Regions from separate parts of the Homo sapiens genome. Here region 1 is reported to be linked to region 2. The links are microRNA targets in miRTarBase. Many come from high-throughput screens and were not tested one by one. Region 2 holds a microRNA gene; the other region holds the end of a gene's coding sequence.
What was found. Region 2 holds the annotated microRNA hsa-miR-8085 (UGGGAGAGAGGACUGUGAGGC, at 2,979-2,999, opposite strand). A microRNA usually pairs through its seed, bases 2 to 8, with sites in the 3' UTR of a target mRNA and lowers its output. Matches are read on the target gene's strand: a 7mer-m8 pairs with bases 2 to 8, a 7mer-A1 pairs with bases 2 to 7 and ends in A, and an 8mer does both.

Region 1 (4,000 bases), not on the chromosome of region 2:
GTAGTATGTTTCGAGAATAATTTTTTGAAGACCACCTAATTCTCAGTCCCTTTCGGCTCATAAGAGACTGTGTTAAGGGGACTTGTTAGGAGAGCTGTAGGGCATTGGCCACCATCTAGACTGTTGCTATCTCCAGCCTGGCCTGGCACTGAGCCAATCCCTGGGACAGGTTTGAATATTTACAGGTGAGTCACAGGTGCAGGTGTGAGGAAGGGGAGAGGACAGGTGCAGGGAGTGGGTGGAAGGGTGGGGGCGGCAGCTGGCCAATGAGCCCGGAGCTCTCCTGACTTCAGGGCTCTGCCTGCCCTTGACCGAGTGCTGTCACCAGCCCAGAACATTTGATCATCCCCAGCACCTGCCACAAAGCAGGTGCCCAGCGCAGGATTGGGAAAGGCGCCCCAGCACAATGGCACTCACCTGCTCCTTACAGTGGAAGCGTTTCTGTGGCGGACGGGTGGCTTGGGACAAAAGCCACAGACAGGGTGACTGGGGTTGTAAATGGCCCAGCCTTGGCTGCCAGGACATGAAATTATGACCTTGATGCTGAAGGCAGTGGGTGCCATTGAAGGGTCTTGGCCAGAGGTGCGTTTTTCAAAATGGCAACATTTCGAAAGCCGCCTCTGGCTGTGTCTTTACAGGGAATGGACGGGGTGGGAGCCAGGTAAAGAAGTTGCTGCAGTCTTCCACGCCAGAGAGGACGGTGGCCCTGACTTGGGGGCTGGGGCGAGGCACAATGGTGGGGATGGCAGGCTACAGATGAGGTGGGCTCGTGAGATCGACAGACAAGGCAGAGGCTTGAGGGCTTCCTCCAGGTCCCCACAGCCCCAGCCCAGCTCAGACGTCTGTTCTGTGGCTGCAGCTCCAGCCATGTCTGCGCTCAGCTCCACCCCCACCCACTCCCTGTCTGGGACCCTCCTGTCTCCCTGTCACCTGCAAGACAACATTCCACTCCCATGCACCCGGCCTCCTCAGCTCGCCCCAGCCCTCACACTCCAAGGATCCCTTCTGCCCTCGCACCTGCCCGGAGACCTCTGCTCTACTTCCACAGCTCAAACCAAACACTGTCCTAAGAGGCCCCCTGACCCTGCTGGACATCCCTGCCTGCGTGCCCTCCTCTGCAGCTCCAGCTTTCAGGAGGGAGGACACAGCCTTTCTTATTAAAAATTGTAATAAAGAGGTGTCCACCTTCAGAACTGCACTGCAGGGCGAGGCAGGCAGGGTGCCCAGGGCACAAAAACTAAGGAGACGCCCACCACAGATAAGTCAGCCTGAGGGCTTGGGCATGTCTAAAGATGGCAGTGGGCTGGGCACAGTGGCTCATGCCTGTAATCCCGGCACTTTGGGAGGCCAAGGTGTGCAGATCACTTGGGGACAGCAGTTCAAGACCAGCCTGGCCAACATGGTGAAACCCCATCTCTACTAAAAATACAAAAAAAATTAGCCAGGTGTAGTTGTGTGTGCCTGTAATTCCAGCTACTGGGGAGGCTGAGGCAGGAGAATCGCTTGAATTCAGGAGGCAGAGGGTCAGTGAGCCAAGATCGCACCACTGCACTCCAGGCTGGGCGACAGAGCAACTCCGTCTCAAAAAATAACAATAATAAATAAAGATGGCAGAGGGAAGTTTTTTTAGTTTTGAGGATTTGTTGCTACAGTTTTTGTGGAGGACAAAAGAAGCCTTTACAACACAGGACGTAAAGCAGGGCGATGTCCTCCTCAGCTGTCTTCTCTAACAAGACACACTGCCCAGCCTGGGCAACATGGCGAAACCCCCATCTCTACAAAAATTAGCTGGGCGTGGTAGTGTGCGCCTGTAGTCCTTGGCTCACTGCAACCTCCGCCTCCTGGGCTCAAGCGATTCTCCTGCCTCAGCCTCCCAAGTAGCTGGAATTACAGGCACACACAACTACACCCGAACAAGCCTCAAGCCTGCTCAGAGCCCCATGTGGTTCAGATGGTGGCAGCACTTTCTAGGAGCTCCCAGAGATCTGGGAAGCGGGGTGGCGGGAGGACGGCCTGGCACTGGACTGGCCAGGGTGCCAGCAGGGACCTCTGTGCAGGTGGCCCAGGGAGCCAGGCTGGTGGAAGAAACTGTCTCCCACAGGGGCTGCCAGGGAGAAACCGCAGGGAAGACCCTGCCTGGAGTCCCAGATGGGAATGCCCACCCTGAACTGGTGCCATCTGAGTTGCCTTGTAGCCAGGCCTCAGCCCAGTAAGGACCTGGCAACACCAGGGCGTTCAGGAACATGGAAAGGGCACTCAACCCACCGGCCACCCCCTCACCCCGAATTAAAGCCTCCCATGGCCTCCTTGGGATGTAGCACCTCAGAGGCCCAGCCTCACCCAGCCCTCTCCCCCTGGCACCCCCAGCTCAGCCCCGCTACTGGGTCACCCTTGGTTCAACCAGGCAAGCCCTCCTTCTCCTCAGAGCCCATGTGCCGTCTCCTCTGTCTGGAAAACTGACGCCAACACTCCCAGGCCAGGTCAAATGCCATCCTGTGCTTCTGTGGTGCCAGGGGCCTCCTCTTCAGAGCAGCTGCTTAGATGTCCCTCTTGGTCACCTCCCCTCCATGCCCCCAGTAATGGAGGGGGGCAGGAGGACACCCCCAGGGGCTAGTAGGACTGACTCAGCCATTGTCCAACTGGAACCACTCTATGTGGGGTGGCAGTGACAAGTCCAGCTTGGTGAGGACAGGTCTTCCCACAGGAGCGATCTGGGCCCAGAGGAGGCTCTGTGTGGGTGAAGCCAGAACCCCTATAAAACCTGCAGAGACACGTCACCCCCTCCCTCAGGCAGGACCCAGCACCAGGGTGTGTCAGGGCCAGGGACCCTGAAGTGGGAAAACTTGCGTCAGCTCTTGTGAGCATCCACTCTGCGAGCGTGAGGGCACAAGGTGGGAACCCGGGGGCTTCCCAAGAGAGGTGCCCTGCCTGGAGCTTCTGGCCTGGGAGGCGCACAGGCCCCACAGCCCAGACCTGCGAGACAGGAGGCAACACTGGAAGGGACCACTGCCTTTATTGCCTCTGTGCTGGGGTCCCAGCCTGGGGTTCAGAGGCCTCTGGGGGCAATAGGTGACCCTGGACCCAAATTATTGCTACTTGGCCAGGTCACCTTGGGGCTTCCCATACTGCCCTGAGAATGGGTGGGATGAGGGCATGCAAACGATATGCAAATGACATGCAAACCAACCCAGAGGCCTCTGGCACATCCATGGGTGCTGGAAGAGTCAGAGCCTAGTGGCCTGGGAGGGCGACGGGGCACCCAGCTCAGGCCCAGCCTCGGAGGCAAGGTTTGAGGGTTGGGGGGTCCCTGAGCATCAGCCCTGCTTCTGCCGCTGGCTGAGGAGGAGCAGAAGCCTGGTCCCAAGACAGCAGGAAGAAAGCAGGACCCTCGCTAGGCGGCCAGATGGCCTGAGGCCCACCCAGACAGGGACGGGACCTGCCCTGGGTCGCTCAGCCAGGCAGGGACAGCAGGGACCAGAATCCAGGTCTCCTGAGCCAGGCAGAAGCCAAAGTAGCTTGGAGGCTGAAGTGACAAACAATAAAATACAGGGATAAATAAATCAATAATAAATAGAAAGCAAGCAGCCCAGTCCCTGATCCCTGGGCTGAGAGCCCTTCCACCAGGCCCAAGTCCAGGAGGAGACAAGTCCTGGTCTTTGCGCTGGGCTGGCCAGTCCAGAAGGCTCCAGAGGGAGGCAGGCAGGGTCCCGGGGCCCTCGGCGTGTGCAGGTCTGGCTCAGTTGTTATTCATTATCCACCAGGAGGCTGGGGGTCAGAGGCAGGGGGTCAGGAGCCCTCAGGAGCCCACTGCCCCTCCAGGGCCACAGTGAGTGGGGGTCCACCGCATACCTGGGAAGAACACAGTGGTGAGGGTGTCCGGGGCCCGCAGGTGGTCGATGAGGATGCGCTGGAAGGCCTTGCTGCCAGGCGACTGCTGGTGCCTGCAGAGACCCAGGCTACAGTGACCTCGCTCTCCCCACTCCCGCCCCATCCTGCTGCC
Region 2 (4,134 bases):
GCCTGCCTCGGCCTCCCAAAGTGCTGGGATTACAGGCGTGAGCCACCGCGCCCGGCCGATTTTGGACTTCTTATGCCCAGAACTGTAAGAGAATAAATTAGTATTGTTTGGCTGGCACGGTGGCTCACACCTTTTGTAATCCCAGCACTTTGGGAGGCTGAGGTGGGTGGATCACTTGAGGTCAGGAGTTCCAGATCAGTCTGGCCAACATGTCAAAACCCTGTGACTAGTAAAAATACAAAAAATTAACCGGGTGTGGTGGTGCACGCCTGTAGTCCCAGCTACTTGGGAGGCTGAGGTAGGAGAATGGCTTGAACCAGGGAAGTGGAGGTTGTAGTGAGCTGAGATTGTGCCACTGCACTCCAGCCTGGGTGACAGAGTGAAACTCTGTTTTAAAAAAAAAAAAAAAAAAGTTAGCATCATTTCAAGCCACTGAATTTGTGATTTGTTATAGTGGCAACAGGAAACCATTACAAACCCCGACTGACACACAGAGGCATACCCCAGAGTCAAAGCACAGATGTGTGGCTGGGCGCGGTGACTCACGCTTGTAATCCCAGCACTTTGGGAGGCCAAAGCAGGCAGATCGCCTGAGGTCAGGAGTTTGAGACCAGCCTGGCCAATGTGGCAAAACCCCCTCTCTACTAAAAATACAAAAATTAGCCAGGCATGGTGGTGGGTGCCTGTAATCCCAGCTACTCTGGAGGCTGGGGCAGGAGAATCTCTTGAACCCAGGAGGCGGAGGTTGCAGTGAGCCGAGATCACGCCATTGCACTCCAGCCTGGGTGACAGAGTGAGACTCCATCCCCCCCCAAAAAAACAACAACAAAACCACAGATGTGGTCCATTAGAGGGGCCCCATGGAACCACTAAGTAAAACTGTCTCACGCCATGTGAGGCAGTCACAGGGCAACAATCACAGCATCACCCCAGATCTCAATGTTAGGAACACTCCCAAGCACCACGCACTCGGACAGCCAGAGACGATTGGGGCTGAAGTCAGCTGTGGGTTATCACCAGGACCCCCACACTACAGAAACACACATGCCCAGGGTCACTACGGAATCCAACAGGGTGCCCTGGAAAGATATCACACACCGGCCAGGTGCAGTGGCTCATGCCTGTAATCCCAGCACTTTGGGAGGCCGACACAGGAGGATCATGAGGTCAGGAGTTCAAGACCAGCCTGACCAACATGGTGAAACCCCGTCTCTACTAAAATTACAAAAATTAGCCAGGTGTGGTGGTGCACACCTGTAATCCCAGCTACTCGGGAGGCTGAGGCAGGAGAATCGCTTGAACCGGGGAGGCGGAGGTTGCAGTGAGCCGAGATCGTGCCACTGCACTCCAGCTTGGGCGACAGAGCAAGACTCTGTCTTGAAAAAAAAAAAAAAAAGATATCACACACCACGTCCTCCTTAGAAACAATGGTACAGTGACAATGATGGCAACATTCACAACCAAACACACCAGAAGTCCCAGAGTGACACACAGGAGATTGTCTGTCTGAGACTCACAACATCACTCTGGGAGTCAACTGGATTCAGTGCACGGGTGTGCACACACACGAAGGCACTTCCGCCAGGTCCATCTCATGAAAGAGGCCCATGCACCCAAGGGATATGGTACAAAAATAGTTTATTACAAAAGAAATCCAACCAAAATGCTTAATAATTTACATCGTGATCCGTGCCCGTTACGGCCCACCTCTCCCCTCCTCAGTTATCTGGTAGAGAGTGGAGGGGAGTGGCTGTTCCCTGGGTCCACCAGCTCTGGGAGGGGACATGGAAATGGAAGATGTGGGTGGCATTCCGGACAGGGACTGGTGCCTGAGAATGCTGGGGTCAGAGTCCTGGGAGGGAGCGAGATGGGGGAACATCTGTGCTCAGAAGAGGGGGTGTATGGGTAGGTGCATGTGCTTCTGTGCAAATCCTGGTCCCGAAGATGGGGGGGGGGGGCAGAGTGAGATCTTCACAGTTTCCAGAAGGGTTGACCCCACAGGGCAGGGGGGCCCCTCCTCATGAGTCCAAGATCTGCCCCCCCATCCCCCTCAGCTGCCTCCTGGAGCTGGGGAGGGGGGCACCGGCCGGCCAGGGCCTCGGAGGACCCCAGCAAAGGGCAGGAAGGCGGGTGGAGATGGGGAAGGAAGGAAGAAATTGGGAGGAGCCATGGGGAATCCAGGGGGGTCCCTGGGGGGAGACTGGGAGGGTGAGGAGGATGGTGATGCGGAGAGAAGACCTGAGGAAGGAAGAGAGACAGAGGGGTGGGTGGTGAGAGGCTAGACCCAGAGAGCAGGGGCTGGGGCCTGAGATCTGGGTCTGAGGGAGGAGGGGCTGGGGGTCTGGACTCGGGTCTGAGGGAGGAGGGGCTGGGGATTTAAACTCCCGGGTCTGAGGAAAGAGGCATCTGGGGACCTAGACTCCTGGGTCTGAAGGAAGAGGGGCCGGGGGTCAGAAGGAGGAGGGGCTGGGGGTGTGAGGGAGGAGGGGCTGAGGTCTGAGGGAGGAGGGTCTGGAAATCTGGACTCCTGGGTCTGAGGGAGGAGGGGCTGAGGTTTGAGATAAGAGGGGCTGGGGGTATGAGGGAGGAGGGGCTGAGGTCTGAGGGAGGAGGGGCTGGGGGGTCTGAAGGAGGAGGGGCTGGGGTCTGAGGGAGGAGGGGCCAGGGGTCTGAGGGAGGAGGGGCTATGGGTTGGGATTCCTGGGTCAGAGGGAGGAGGCTAGGGGCCTGGACTCCTGGATCTGAGGGAGGAGGGGCTGTGGGTTGGGATTCCTGGGTCTGAGGGAGGAGGCGCCAGGGCTGGAGGTTGGGAACGGTTTCTCACCATTGGAGCTGAGGCGGCTGCTGCTCTCGGGGGAGGTGTTGGCGCTCCGGTCAGGGGAGGGGTCTGGCTGGGAGGTGGAAGCAGGCCGGGTGGCCTTCCCCCTCAGGATGTCGATGACCTGTAGGAAGATGGGCGTGACCATAGAGCCACCCATGCCTCACAGTCCTCTCTCCCATCCCTCCTAGCTCACTGGATCCAGGTGGTGGCCTCTCCACTTCTCAGTATGAAAAGATGGGCAAGGCACTTTTTTTCTTGGTGCCAGTCTCTCCTCATTTCTGGAACTCACACCCGCGCTTTCAGAGGCTCACCCACTCCCCTCCACGCAACGGCACAGACACCCTCACTCCTCTGCGCTCTGGCACACTCGCCTGCAACCAGCCCGCGGACACACGTGTGCAAGGGGCATGTCCACAGCTGCCCCGGCTCACCCTGCGGCTGCGCGCCACCATGAGCGGCGTGTCGTTGTGGCAGTTCTTGAGGCTGCTGTCAGCGCCGCTGCGGACCAGCGTGCGCACCAGCGGGAGGAGCCCGCGGCCGGACGCTGAGTGCAGGGCGGAGCTGCCGGAGTACATTTGCGCGTTCACGTTGGCGCCGTGCTGCGGGACGGGAGGGCCGGGTCAGGAGGGCGCGCGGGCCACCCGGGGTAAGGGAACAGAGGCTGGAGGCCCGGGTGGGTGGCCGGCACGTGGGGCGGCACCGGATCGGGGTGGGGTCACAGGAAGGTAGGAGCGAGAGCCAAGGGCAGGCCAAGCGGGACTGCGTTGGCGGCGATGAATTAACCGGAGCTGGACACCGAGGCCCGCGCCCCAAGGAGTCGGGGGAGCTGGAGGGGGGAAGGACAATGCGTGGACAGGGCCTAGCTGGAAGGCGGGGTCAGCCAGGCCATCGCAGGGCGGGGCCTAGGCCGTTGAGGTGGCAGAGGAGGAATGGGACAAGTTCGTAGCCAGGGGCGTGGAGCCCGAGGGTCGAGAAAACTAGGCCTTAAAGGATCAGAGCTGGACGCGGAGCAGGAGCCGGAGCCAGAAGTGGAAGGCGGGGTCAGAGCTAGGGGCTGAGGCCAGAGCCGGGTTGGGGTCAGAGGATAGGGTGGGCGCGAGGCTCAGGGGGGCTGTACGCACCTGCAGCAGCAGCTGCACCATGCTAAGGCTGTTGTTTTCCACGGCGTGGATGAGCGGGGAGCGGCCGCTCTTAATGTCCTGCGGCGGGGAGGGAAGGTCTTAGTTTCTCCAAGCTCTGCTCCAGCAGCCGGCGACCCGCATCCCGTCCACATCCCATTCGCGGGGTCCAGCCTCTCTCTTGGGTCTGATACT

Region 1: miRTarBase lists NECAB3 as a target of hsa-miR-8085. The part of its 3' UTR that is shown has no 7-base or 8-base seed match.

What each region holds. Positions count from the first base shown.
Region 1 is chr20:33,654,093-33,658,092 of GRCh38, forward strand. NECAB3 (N-terminal EF-hand calcium binding protein 3) reads right to left here. Exons shown (of 12, transcript NM_031232.4): 11 at 3,850-3,941; 12 at 2,995-3,765. The coding sequence ends at 3,737. Among named protein-coding and RNA genes, the nearest start is that of C20orf144, 6.2 kb to the right of the region's middle. RefSeq lists an enhancer at 2,203-2,703.
Region 2 is chr19:44,757,532-44,761,665 of GRCh38, reverse strand. MIR8085 (microRNA 8085) reads right to left here and starts at 3,009; the gene lies at 2,945-3,009. BCL3 (BCL3 transcription coactivator) reads right to left here. Exons shown (of 9, transcript NM_005178.5): 6 at 3,943-4,020; 7 at 3,253-3,420; 8 at 2,825-2,942; 9 at 1,622-2,238. The coding sequence ends at 2,051. RefSeq lists an enhancer at 2,423-3,072.